Linked DNA regions of Homo sapiens. The protein of the gene in region 1 interacts with the protein of each later gene in a biochemical or structural test. Each region holds a gene or a part of one and is shown in the gene's direction. Other genes may lie near its edges.

Region 1 (3,029 bases):
GAAAGCAGGAGAGTCATGTTTTCTAGATTGCTTTATACTTAAGCTTCCAATATCCTATTTTAGACTTAAAATGTGCTATATACGGGTAGTAGTTTCCAACTGTTACATCTCACAGCTCTTAATAGTTTCATGAAAATTATACTTGGACTCAAATGAAAGAATGTAGGCTTTGGCATGAAATTGATCCATAATCATCTCTAGCAGGTATATTCTATAAATTCAACAGTTAAATAATTCAGGGTAAAATCACTTCATGCGTATCACCCCGTAGCCATTCTGAATCAAGAGAAACCATATTTCCCTTGGAGGTTTTCCCTACAACATTGATCTTGAAGGCTCCATATTAAAGTTTGATTTGATTGCTTTCCATATGTTGAATATTAATAAGGATTATATATTTTTCTCAAGCAGTTTTATTACCACTATATTTAATTTTGTTGAGAGTATATAATTACTTCTTCAAGGTATGTTAGAAAATGCCATATTCCTAAAATTCTGAATTCCTTCATCCCACACCTGCCTATCATTATTGTCATTTGCTGTCACCACCCACTTCAGGATGGTCTCTTGCTTCTTGTTCTCTTCCTATTCTCTGCATGGGAACTGAGGCAGAGGCTGACTACCTGAGGTTCTTCATGTTCCTCAGCCACCTTCTACCACCTCACCCTTTCCTTGGATCTAGTTAATCTTTTAGATTATTTGCCTGTGTTGCCAGAGACTTCTGTTGATGGGAAAGGAGAAAAGCCAGCATGGTCGGAGGGTCAGAACTATATGGAGGGGAAACTGGGTGAATTCTGAGCCCACTCTGGCCTGAGTTAAAATCTTCTAAAGGCAGATCAGTATCTTGTTTGAGCCCAAAAGAGTCCTTTGATAATTTACCATGTTATTATGCTTATTGTACACATTTCCTCTTTCTCTCAGCAAACCTAGAGTACTATACATACATTATTGATTTATCTTTATCATGTTCAAATGAAAGGCCTGGTGAGTGAATTGCCTTAACAGACTTTACAAAATGAAAAATTATTAATGTGATATATTAGTGAAGTGCAGAAGCTTCACTTAAAAAGTAGAGCTGTTAGCTTTCCTAAAGAGATACTAGAAGAAAACCACAGTAGAATTTTATCCTGAGCCATTTCATGATATGACCTGCAGCCTGCACAAGTCAGTAACTATCTTGTCTGAACTGTTTATCTTTCAGGATAGCAGTGGCAGCTCCGAGTTACAAGAAATTATGAGAAGACGACAGGAAAAAATCAGTGCTGCCGCTAGTGATTCAGGAGTGGAATCTTTTGATGAAGGAAGCAGTCACTAATTTGTTTGTTTGTATTTAAACTCCATTGTTTTTGGCATTATTCCAACATGCTTTGTTTTAAGAAGCCTTGAAGGGAATGTCAGATTCATTTTTCTTGATGTAATTTATCACCATAAAAAAAAACCCATGCAAACCTGAGTGAGCACAGGATTTGCTTCTAGGCCCATTATTTTTATTAAAACTGAAAAAATTTAAACTGAATTTTTTGACCTTGGAAAATATTTTTCTTACTTTACCAAGGTGAAGTTTCCTTAATTAGACTAATTATTTTATCCCCATCCCAGGGTATAAACAGGAATTGTTTTGATAGTGGTGGAGTTATTCACTGCAACAAAGCAACAATGTTGTCCATGATTCAAAATCTAAGCAGTTTCGATTTTGCCTGTGAATATGGTGTCTGTCATTCAGGGCATAGCTCACTGTAGGCTAGCCTCTGCTTACTTAAGTCTCTTCTCTGACATACTCAATGGAAGAATATTTAGATTTATTTAAAGTTCTTAATGCCAACAGTTTAAAAAAAAATTAAAACATTTGAATGAACTGTAAAGTACAGCCATACCTTGGACATGCAAATATAAATCTATGGAGCATTCTCAAGAGAGTTTGTCATGGCTCTGTTGATTGCAACTCCTTGTATAGCTTGTATTTTGATTTAGTTTATATTCTGCTTATTATGTATACTGTGTTCTTATATATGAGAAAGCACAAATGCGAAAGAGGTCATGTCTTCTCAAAATCTAGCAAAGGAAGTAGTCTGCATTGGTGTGCATTACAGTATTTTGCTTAATGAAAGCCTCAGTTCTGAATGTTGATATGAGTAGTTAAAAGGAAGTGGGGCCATTTTATGTGTTTATCTGTGTCAAGTATTTCTGGTAATAAGAAGCACTTAATTTACACATATTTTAATCCTGTGAAAGATTCCACATAGAGAAAAGAAAGATACCTAACCTTCAACAAATGTTATTTTTGGAAACACAATTTTTGTCATTAAATGTTATATTATTTCACATATATAAAACAGATGTTATGTAAGAATGTTGTATATTTTAACATAAATCATTTAGAGAAATTATCTAGATTCATTAATTTTCATAGTGCCTTTTTCACATGAGTCAGCTGGAAAGTCTGCAATAAACAGTATTTGCTGTCTGTTAATAAATGGTTTCTGTCTCATTAGCAAAAAGGATCTGTGCTAGATCGGCTGAGGATTCGAGTTGAATGCAATGGGAAAAAGTAGAGATCCACATTTTAAAAAAACTATATATTATTCTATTTCTGAGTGGGTAGAGAAACTCTAGAATACTTTTTTCGGTTGTTTTTCTTCTTTTCGCCTCTTGTTTCATCATCTTTTCCTTCTACCATCTAGTCATATTTGGTAATGGTAATGGAACTAATTTACACTGCGCTTACGATTGCTAAATGCTTCCATATAAATGCTTTCCTGGATATTTACAACAACTCTATATGAATTATTACAGATGAGGAGATTTAGCTTCCTAGAAGCTAATTTTCCCCAGATCCTGAAGGATGTGGGAGTTTCTCATCTTCTATCTCTCGGTCTCTCTATAACACTGCCCTTTGGATAAAGTGGAACAAACATGAGCATGATAAAGGTGAATTAGTTTAGATCTTTTACATTTCATAAGGACTGATACATATGTATAATTTAGCCTTTATTGAAAGGGATAAGATGAAAGAAAATAAGATCCAAAAG
Region 2 (3,651 bases), on another chromosome or scaffold:
CCGGTGGCAGCGGCGGCTCGGGCTGCGCCTCCCGTTGCCGTCGCTGCTGCGGCTTTGTCTCCCCCGGGGAGGGGGTCCCGGCGGCTCTGCGTTTTCGGGCTCTCGGTCCCGGCGCCGTCGTTTTCCGCCTCCTGCGGCCCGGGCCCCCGTCTGGGTCCGACCCTGCGGGGCCTCGCCTTGGCGCTTGGGCTCCTGCCCGGCAGGTTTCCGCGCGTCCCCTGTCCCCGACCCTCGGGCTGGGCGCTTCCGCCTCCAGGTTTTCTCTCCGTGTTTCTGTAGCTCCCCGGCCTCGTCTCTCCGGGGCTCCTCTCGTCTCGGCGTCTCTGTCTGTCGTCTATCGTTGTGTCTCTGGCTCTGCGTCAGTCTCTCTTGGGTTTTCTCTTCGGGCCTCCGCTGTCTCTCCGAGTCTCTGATCCAATCCCCCACCCCTCGTTTCTCTCTCTCTCTCTCTCTCTCGTCTCTCTCTCTCTCTCTCTCTCTCTCTGTCTCCCTGTCTCTCTCCATCCCTCCCTGTGTCTCGTCCCCGCCGGGTTCTCTCTAGCTGGGCGTCTCAGTGTCTGTGTCTCTGGCACTCTCGGACTGGCCTCGTGTCTGCGCCCGGTGGCGTCGGTCGTTGTCTCTCGCCAGAGTTTCTTCCCATCTCTGGCTCCCCCGGACTCTGTCTCTGCCTCCTTCGTCTCTGTCGGGTTCCCAGAACACCCGGGCCGGGCGCCCCAGCGCTCCTGGGTCCCCTGGCGTCTTCCCCGCGGCTGAGCCCATCTCTTTTTCTCAGAATCGGGGTTTTGTTCTCAGACAAACGAATCCCAATCGAAGCGCATCGAACCCGAGGGCCCCAGATCGGGCGCGACGGGGTCCGCGCGGGAGGAGCCCCCCGGACGGGGCGGGAGCGTGGGGCCTGGCAGGGGAAGGCCGGGCGCGGGGACTGCACCGGACCCACCCCGGGACGCTGCGCGGGGCGCTCGGTGGGTGCCGGCGGCAGCGCCTGGGCACAGAGAGGGGATTACGCGACGGGCCGGCGACAGCGGCTGGGGCGGCGGCCGCGGGGACCCCAGGCTGCCGGTCTCCGCCGGCCCTCCCTGACCCGCTGTCCCTCCGCAGGCGGACGCCGCGGGCATGGACTATTCGTACGACGAGGACCTGGACGAGCTGTGCCCCGTGTGCGGGGACAAGGTGTCCGGCTACCACTACGGACTGCTCACGTGTGAGAGCTGCAAGGTGAGCGGCGAGCGCGCGGCAGGGGTGCGGCAGACGGGCGCTGCGGGGCCTCGCTGACTCTCAGCTCCCGCAGGGCTTCTTCAAGCGCACGGTGCAGAACAACAAGCACTACACGTGCACCGAGAGCCAGAGCTGCAAGATCGACAAGACGCAGCGCAAGCGCTGTCCCTTCTGCCGCTTCCAGAAATGCCTGACGGTGGGGATGCGCCTGGAAGGTGCGCGCCGCGCGGGCCTCGACCCCTGACCCCCCACAGCCTGAGGGGGTAGGGGGTGGGGGTGGGAGAGGGGCTGAGGGGATAGTACCATTGGCCTTCGCGAAGGCCCCTCGTGCGACATTAGGGCCCAGTCGCTGCAAGAGAACCGGGCGCTGGCGCTGGGTGGGCCTCGGGCGGGGAAGGGACGCTGGCAAGGCCAGCCTGGGTTGGGCTGAGAAGTATCCAAAAGTGAACCCTATGGAGATGACTCTTTCCCCAGCCCCTGCCAGGGCCCCAGCACAGGGTCGGCAGAGCTCCTCCCTCTGTGAGGAGGTCCCCATGCCCCCAAAATACCCAACCCCAGCCAGCAGAGGCCAAGTCCCAGTGCCCGCACTGTCAGTCAGGCTGGGTGACATTGGGCAAAATCCTTAACCTCTCTAAACCGCAGATTTCCCATGTGAAACATGGGCTTGGCCGGATGGAGCGGCTCATGCCTGTAATTCCAGCATTTGGGAGGCTGAGGCAAGAGGATCACTTGAGCCCAGAAGTTTAAGACCAGCCTGGGCAACATGGAGAAACCTTGTATCTATAAAATATAAAAAAGTAGCTGGGCGTGGTGACATGTGCCTGTAGTCCTAGCTACTCAGGAGGCTGAGGTGGGGGGATCACTTGAGCCTGGAAAGTCGAGGCTGCAGTGAGCTATGATCACACCACTCCACTCCAGCCTGGGCGAGAGGGAAACCCTGTCTCAAAAAATAAGTACATAAAAATAAAAAAGAAAGAAAAGAAAAGGCAGAAAGAGAAAGAAAGAAAAGAAAAATGGGCTTAACGGCAGCGCCTTCCTCCAGTGAGTGAGTGTGGGGATCGGTGCAGGCAAGCTGAAGGTGCCTAGGCGTTCATTGCCGCAGGTTAGCTGTCAAGCCCATCACGCTTTCCATTAGGATCTGCCCACCACCACCGCCCAGCCCCCACACATTCAGCTGCCCATCTGCTTGTCTGTCCGTCCATCCAAAGGGCTCTCTGGTTTATTGGCTCAGCCAGTGAGATTCCTTCCCGTCATGTTCTTAGCCAGGCCCTGAGGGGGCCGGGCAGTGGGGGACAATTGAATTGCCCCCAAGAAACCCAGGCCCCTCTTTGCCTCCCTACCCTCAACCCCAGCTCTCAGCCCAGAGAGGAGGAGGTAAGTTTTGGCAGGAAAGATTTGAGCTTCTGGAGGTGGCCGGTCACTGGACTGTGTGCTGAACAGGCAGTGGTTGATTAAGGTCTTGGAACAGTGTAGAAAGCCCCAGGTGGCTCTGAGAGTGGTGGACCACATGCCCTGCCACCTGGAGAAAGGACTCCTGGATGGGAGAGGGGACATCCTGTCCTGTCCCCAGAGCCCATGCCCCTAGTGCCAGGTCCCAAGGGGCCAGATAGCTGGCTGTTGTGGGCAGTAGAAACTCCCGTGCAGCCTGCGAGCAGCACAGCGCTGCCCACCCCAGGGGGCAGGAAGATTGGCCAGGCAGCCCCCCAGCCATCATCCCTGCTGAGCACCACCACCCCCTCTCTCCTGCTCTTTCCCCTCGCCCAGATCCCAGGGTGGGGCCCTGTCTGAGCAGGGGCGGGGGGCACACTCCAGCTGCAGAGATGTACCTGTTGGGTCTGGCTGATGACACATTCCTCGCCAGGCGGAGGAGCTTCTAGTCGGCAAGAGAGGTCCCCTCCCCCAGCATAGAGCCTTGGCCAGCTCTAAACTTGGCTTCACATTCGCAGCCAGTGAAGGATACTTGAGTCATTTTGAAGCAGGAGCTCAACAGTCAGGCAGTCAGTCAACAAACAGCTGGACCCTGGGGCCAGCGGTGAACAAGGCTGACCAGGGTCCCCTTCCGGTCACCATCTCCCTGCCAGGCCTTATGCTAGACACCTGAGCCCAGAACTTAGCCCGCAGGAGCACATGGCATGATCCACTCAGCATGATAAGAGTGGGCAAGGACAGGGCACCTGGGGCAAGGACAGTAGAGCCCGTTTGCATGAATCCAGGAGTGCTTCCTGGAAGTAGTGACATTGAGGCTGGGTGTTCAGCAAGCACAAGAGAAAAAAAAAAGTTTGAGTCAGAAGGAAAATGAAAGGCAGGGTGGAGGAGGAAGGAGATGTGTCAAACAGAGGAGTGGAGGTGAGTTCGGTGGAGTGGAAGGAGAGGGGTCTTAGCAGGGATTGCCTGAAAAGCTGAGCAGGGCCTTGAATGCCAGGCAAAGGAGACTGA
Region 3 (3,651 bases), on another chromosome or scaffold:
TCAGCGCAGGGCAGGGCTGGGGCCGGACATCCACAGAGACCACCTGCTGGTCAGGATGTCACAGCCCTGTGTCCCATCTGTAGGTGGCCATGACGGTCCCCTCCTCACCAGCAGTAGCAGGTCCCAATCCTTTGCCATTTGTCATGGCAGCCAGACTCCAGGCGATGGTGTGGCACCAGGGCCAGGCACTGGAGGCAGGTAGAGTGCACCCCATGCCTACTGCTGAGCCTTGGGGCACACAAGCCTTCCTCAGCCTTTCCTGGTCACCTTCGGGGGTGGTCAAGGCAACAGGCAGCGAGTGTGGACACACGTGCCACGCCCCCTCCGAGTGTGTTTCTGCACCAAGCGCACAGCAGGCTCAGCAGGACAGGATGTGGGAGGGCCCAGCTCTCCCAAGACAGGGATGGCCCCAGACTGGGACGGATGGAAGTGGGCGGTGGGCGGAGGGCGCAGAGGAGGGTGGTGGCCAGGCTGTGACCGGCCCCAGGAGCTCCATGGAAGGGACTGGGCCCATGCAGGGCAGTCATGGGAGGGTTTGGGCGGGGAGGTGACCCGACCATCTGCTCCGTGTTCCTGGAAGGTGAAATGATGCCGCAATCTTCCATGAAAGAAGCTGAGCATGTGTGAGCATGGGGGAGGCTGGCTGCGCCCCTGTGCATCTGGCCGGCCAGAACCGATGTCACCGGGCTGTTTAACACCCATGGAAACTCAGTAGAGTGCCAAGAGCCGATGGCTTCCTGGTGATTTTACTGTGATCCACCCTCGTGGGGCTACTTCCGCCTACCATCTGTGTGGTGGTAGGAATTCCCTACCTGTGTGGTGGAAATTCTGGCCAACACTGGCCACCATGCACGTCCTCCCAACCCAGTGATATTGCGAGCTTGAAATCCACCAGGCAGGATCACTCACACCACAGGCAGGAGTACTCACACCACAGGCGGGAGCAGTCACACCGCAGGCAGGATCACTCACACTGCAGGCGGGATCACTCACACCGCAGGCGGGAGCACTCACACCGCAGGCGGGATCACTCACACCGCAGGCAGGAGGACTCACACGGGCAGGCCTGGACAATGCTGCAGCTCAGGGCTTTGCTTTCTTTTCTTATCCTCATGATGCAACAGTAATTTTTTTTTTATTTTTTATTTATTTTATTTTATTTTATTTATTTTTTTATTTCATTTCATTTCATTTCATTTCATTTCATTTTATTTTATTGAGACAGAGTTTTGCTCTTGTTGCCCAGGCTGGAGTGCCATGGTGTGATCTCAGCTCATTGCGACCTCCGCCTCCTGGGTTCTCCTGCCTCAGTCTCCTGAGTAGCTGGGCTTACAGGTGCCCACCACCACGCCCAGCTAATTTTTGTATTTTTAGTAGAGACGGGGTTTCACCATGTTGGCCAGGCTGGTCTCAAACTCCTGACCTCAGTGATCCACCCACTTTGGCCTCCCAAAGTGCTGGGATCACAGGCGTGAGCCATCATGCCTGGCCTGGGTTTTTTTTGTTTTGTTTTGTTTTTTTGAGACAAGGTCTTGCTCTGTCGCCCAGGCTGGAGTGCAGTGGTGCGATCTCAGCTCACTGCAACCTCCACCTCCTGGGTTTAAGTGATCCTCCTGCCTCAGCCTCCCGAGTATCTGGTACTACAGGCATGTGACGCCACACCACTCTAATATTTGTACTTTTTGTAGAGATGGGGTCTTCTTATGTTGCCCAGGCTGGTCCTGAACTCCTGGGCTCAGGCAATCTTCCCACATCGGCCTCCCGAGTACTGGTATTCCAGGCGTGGCCCCTGGGCAGCTCAGGGCTTTTTACCCCCAAGAACCTCTTACCACACATCACTGACCACACACTCTGGGGACCAAGTGCAAAACTGCGTTGAGGACCGTCCCAGCCATTTTGCAGGTGCAGAAGCCCCTGGGGTGAGCCCAGTGCGTGGAGATGCCGTGGCACAGGTCCTAGCCGTGCCATGTCTGGTCTTCTTGCCCAACAGAAACTCACCGAGATCATCCCCAAGTCAGCCGTGGGGGAGCTGTCTGAGGACTCCAGCAATGTGGTCCATCTCATTAAGAATGCTTACAATGTGAGTCTCCCGCACCACTCAGCTGGGACCCATGGGGTGGCCAGCAATCTCCCCACTGCAGGTCAGCTCCTGCTGCAGGTCAGCAGGAGGGTGGTCTGGGAGGAAAGCCCCTGCCCCGTGGGCCAGCTGCAGCCTCCCGACCTGCCCTCAGGCCTCCAGGACACCCTGGCCCGGCACTTCCACGGGGAGCTCTGGGTCCTCTCTCGTTGATGTTGTGGGCGATGCTCCCTGAAACCTGAGCTCCGGACTCTTCATTCCAGACTCTTCTCTGCGGGTCTCTATGGAGAAGGGAGGTGGACAGCTCTGGTGGCAAACAGTGCAGCTGGGGCAGGAGGAGGCCACAGGAAACCCCCACAGTGGACTTGGGCCCTGGGAAGACACCCTGGGGGGTGGAATTCCTCTTGCTCTGTTCACCTGTCCTGGGCAAGCTCCAGAGAAGCCCTTAACCCCTGAATTTCTCCCTGGTGCACGGCCCATCGAGCTGCACCCTGGGCTGCTCCCCTGGGGAGCCCATGGCCCTGGTGGGCATAGGTAGGCATAGGTGCGCACTAGGTGCCATTCAGGGCCCCAGGCACCAGAGGTCCCGACTGCTCTGGAAATCTACCCCCAGGTGAGAGATGTTCTCAGAATTCTGGCCTGGATCCTTCTAGGCCAAAGGTCCTGCTGGCTTGAGGGAGCTCAGCACGTTAGCGCCTCCGACAAACGTTGGGTCATTGAATTAAACTGAAGGCCCGTGGAGGAGGTGCCATTTGCTTCTCGTAGCCTCCCGTGAGCCCCAAACCCCCAGAGCAGACCCTCCTGGGTGCCAGCCACTGCCCGAGGTGTTTCTGTCCTTACACAGAGGATGCAGGTGACGCCACTGCCCTGGCCATTCACCCGATGCCCCTATGAACCTGTCCCTCTGCCTCCTCTCAATTTCCGTCTGTCTCTCAGTCTTTGTCTCTCTTTCTCTGTCTCTCTCTGTCTGTCTCTCTCTGTCTCTGCCCCATCTCTGTCTGTCTCTGTCTCTGCCTCTCTCTGTTTCTCTCCATCTCTCTGTCTCTGGCTCTGGCTCTGCCCATCTCTGTCTGTCTCTGCCTCTCTCTGTTTCTCCCCATCTCTCTTATCGCTTGAACAATTTATGCAGCTCCTGCCCTGTGCTAGGTCCTGGGGACTCAAGGCTGAGGAGCAGCAGAAGCTCCCACCCCTGAGGCTCACACCCTGGCTCCATGCTAGTCCCTGTGGTCAGGCTGTCTCGAGGGCAGGACTGTGGCCCTGGCAGCCCTGCCATCCTCAGCACATCCTGCTGTGCTCTCCTCTGTGTCATTAGCTGACACTGGGGACTTGCACTGAGAGGAGAAGTGGAGACGGGTCTAAACCGCTGGGCCAGGCAGGGCCAGGACAACAGAAACACTCGCCCCCAAGAGTAACCGCTCTCTGCCCGCAGAAACTCTCCTCCAGGGTCTTCCTGGATCACAACGCCCTCCCCGACACCCTGAAAGTCACCTACGACTCCTTCTGCAGCAATGGAGTGACGCACAGGAACCAGCCCAGAGGTGACTGTGATGGCGTGCAGATCAATGTCCCGGTGA

The links.
Region 2: the proteins of EPS8 (region 1) and NR5A1 interact in a surface display test, tested with the Homo sapiens proteins (one large-scale study listed by IntAct).
Region 3: the proteins of EPS8 (region 1) and ITGB2 form a complex in vitro, tested with the Homo sapiens proteins (one study listed by IntAct).

The regions. Positions count from the first base shown.
Region 1 is NC_000012.12:15,619,603-15,622,631, reverse strand, and holds the end of EPS8 (epidermal growth factor receptor kinase substrate 8), read left to right. Parts: intron 1-1,201; coding exon 1,202-1,315; 3' UTR 1,316-2,498; downstream 2,499-3,029. UniProt on the Homo sapiens protein: Signaling adapter that controls various cellular protrusions by regulating actin cytoskeleton dynamics and architecture. Depending on its association with other signal transducers, can regulate different processes.
Region 2 is NC_000009.12:124,500,858-124,504,508, reverse strand, and holds part of NR5A1 (steroidogenic factor 1), read left to right. Parts: intron 1-1,098; 5' UTR 1,099-1,113; coding exon 1,114-1,215; intron 1,216-1,288; coding exon 1,289-1,430; intron 1,431-3,651. UniProt on the Homo sapiens protein: Transcriptional activator. Essential for sexual differentiation and formation of the primary steroidogenic tissues. Binds to the Ad4 site found in the promoter region of steroidogenic P450 genes such as CYP11A, CYP11B and CYP21B.
Region 3 is NC_000021.9:44,893,400-44,897,050, reverse strand, and holds part of ITGB2 (integrin beta-2 isoform 1 precursor), read left to right. Parts: intron 1-1,990; coding exon 1,991-2,080; intron 2,081-3,506; coding exon 3,507-3,647; intron 3,648-3,651.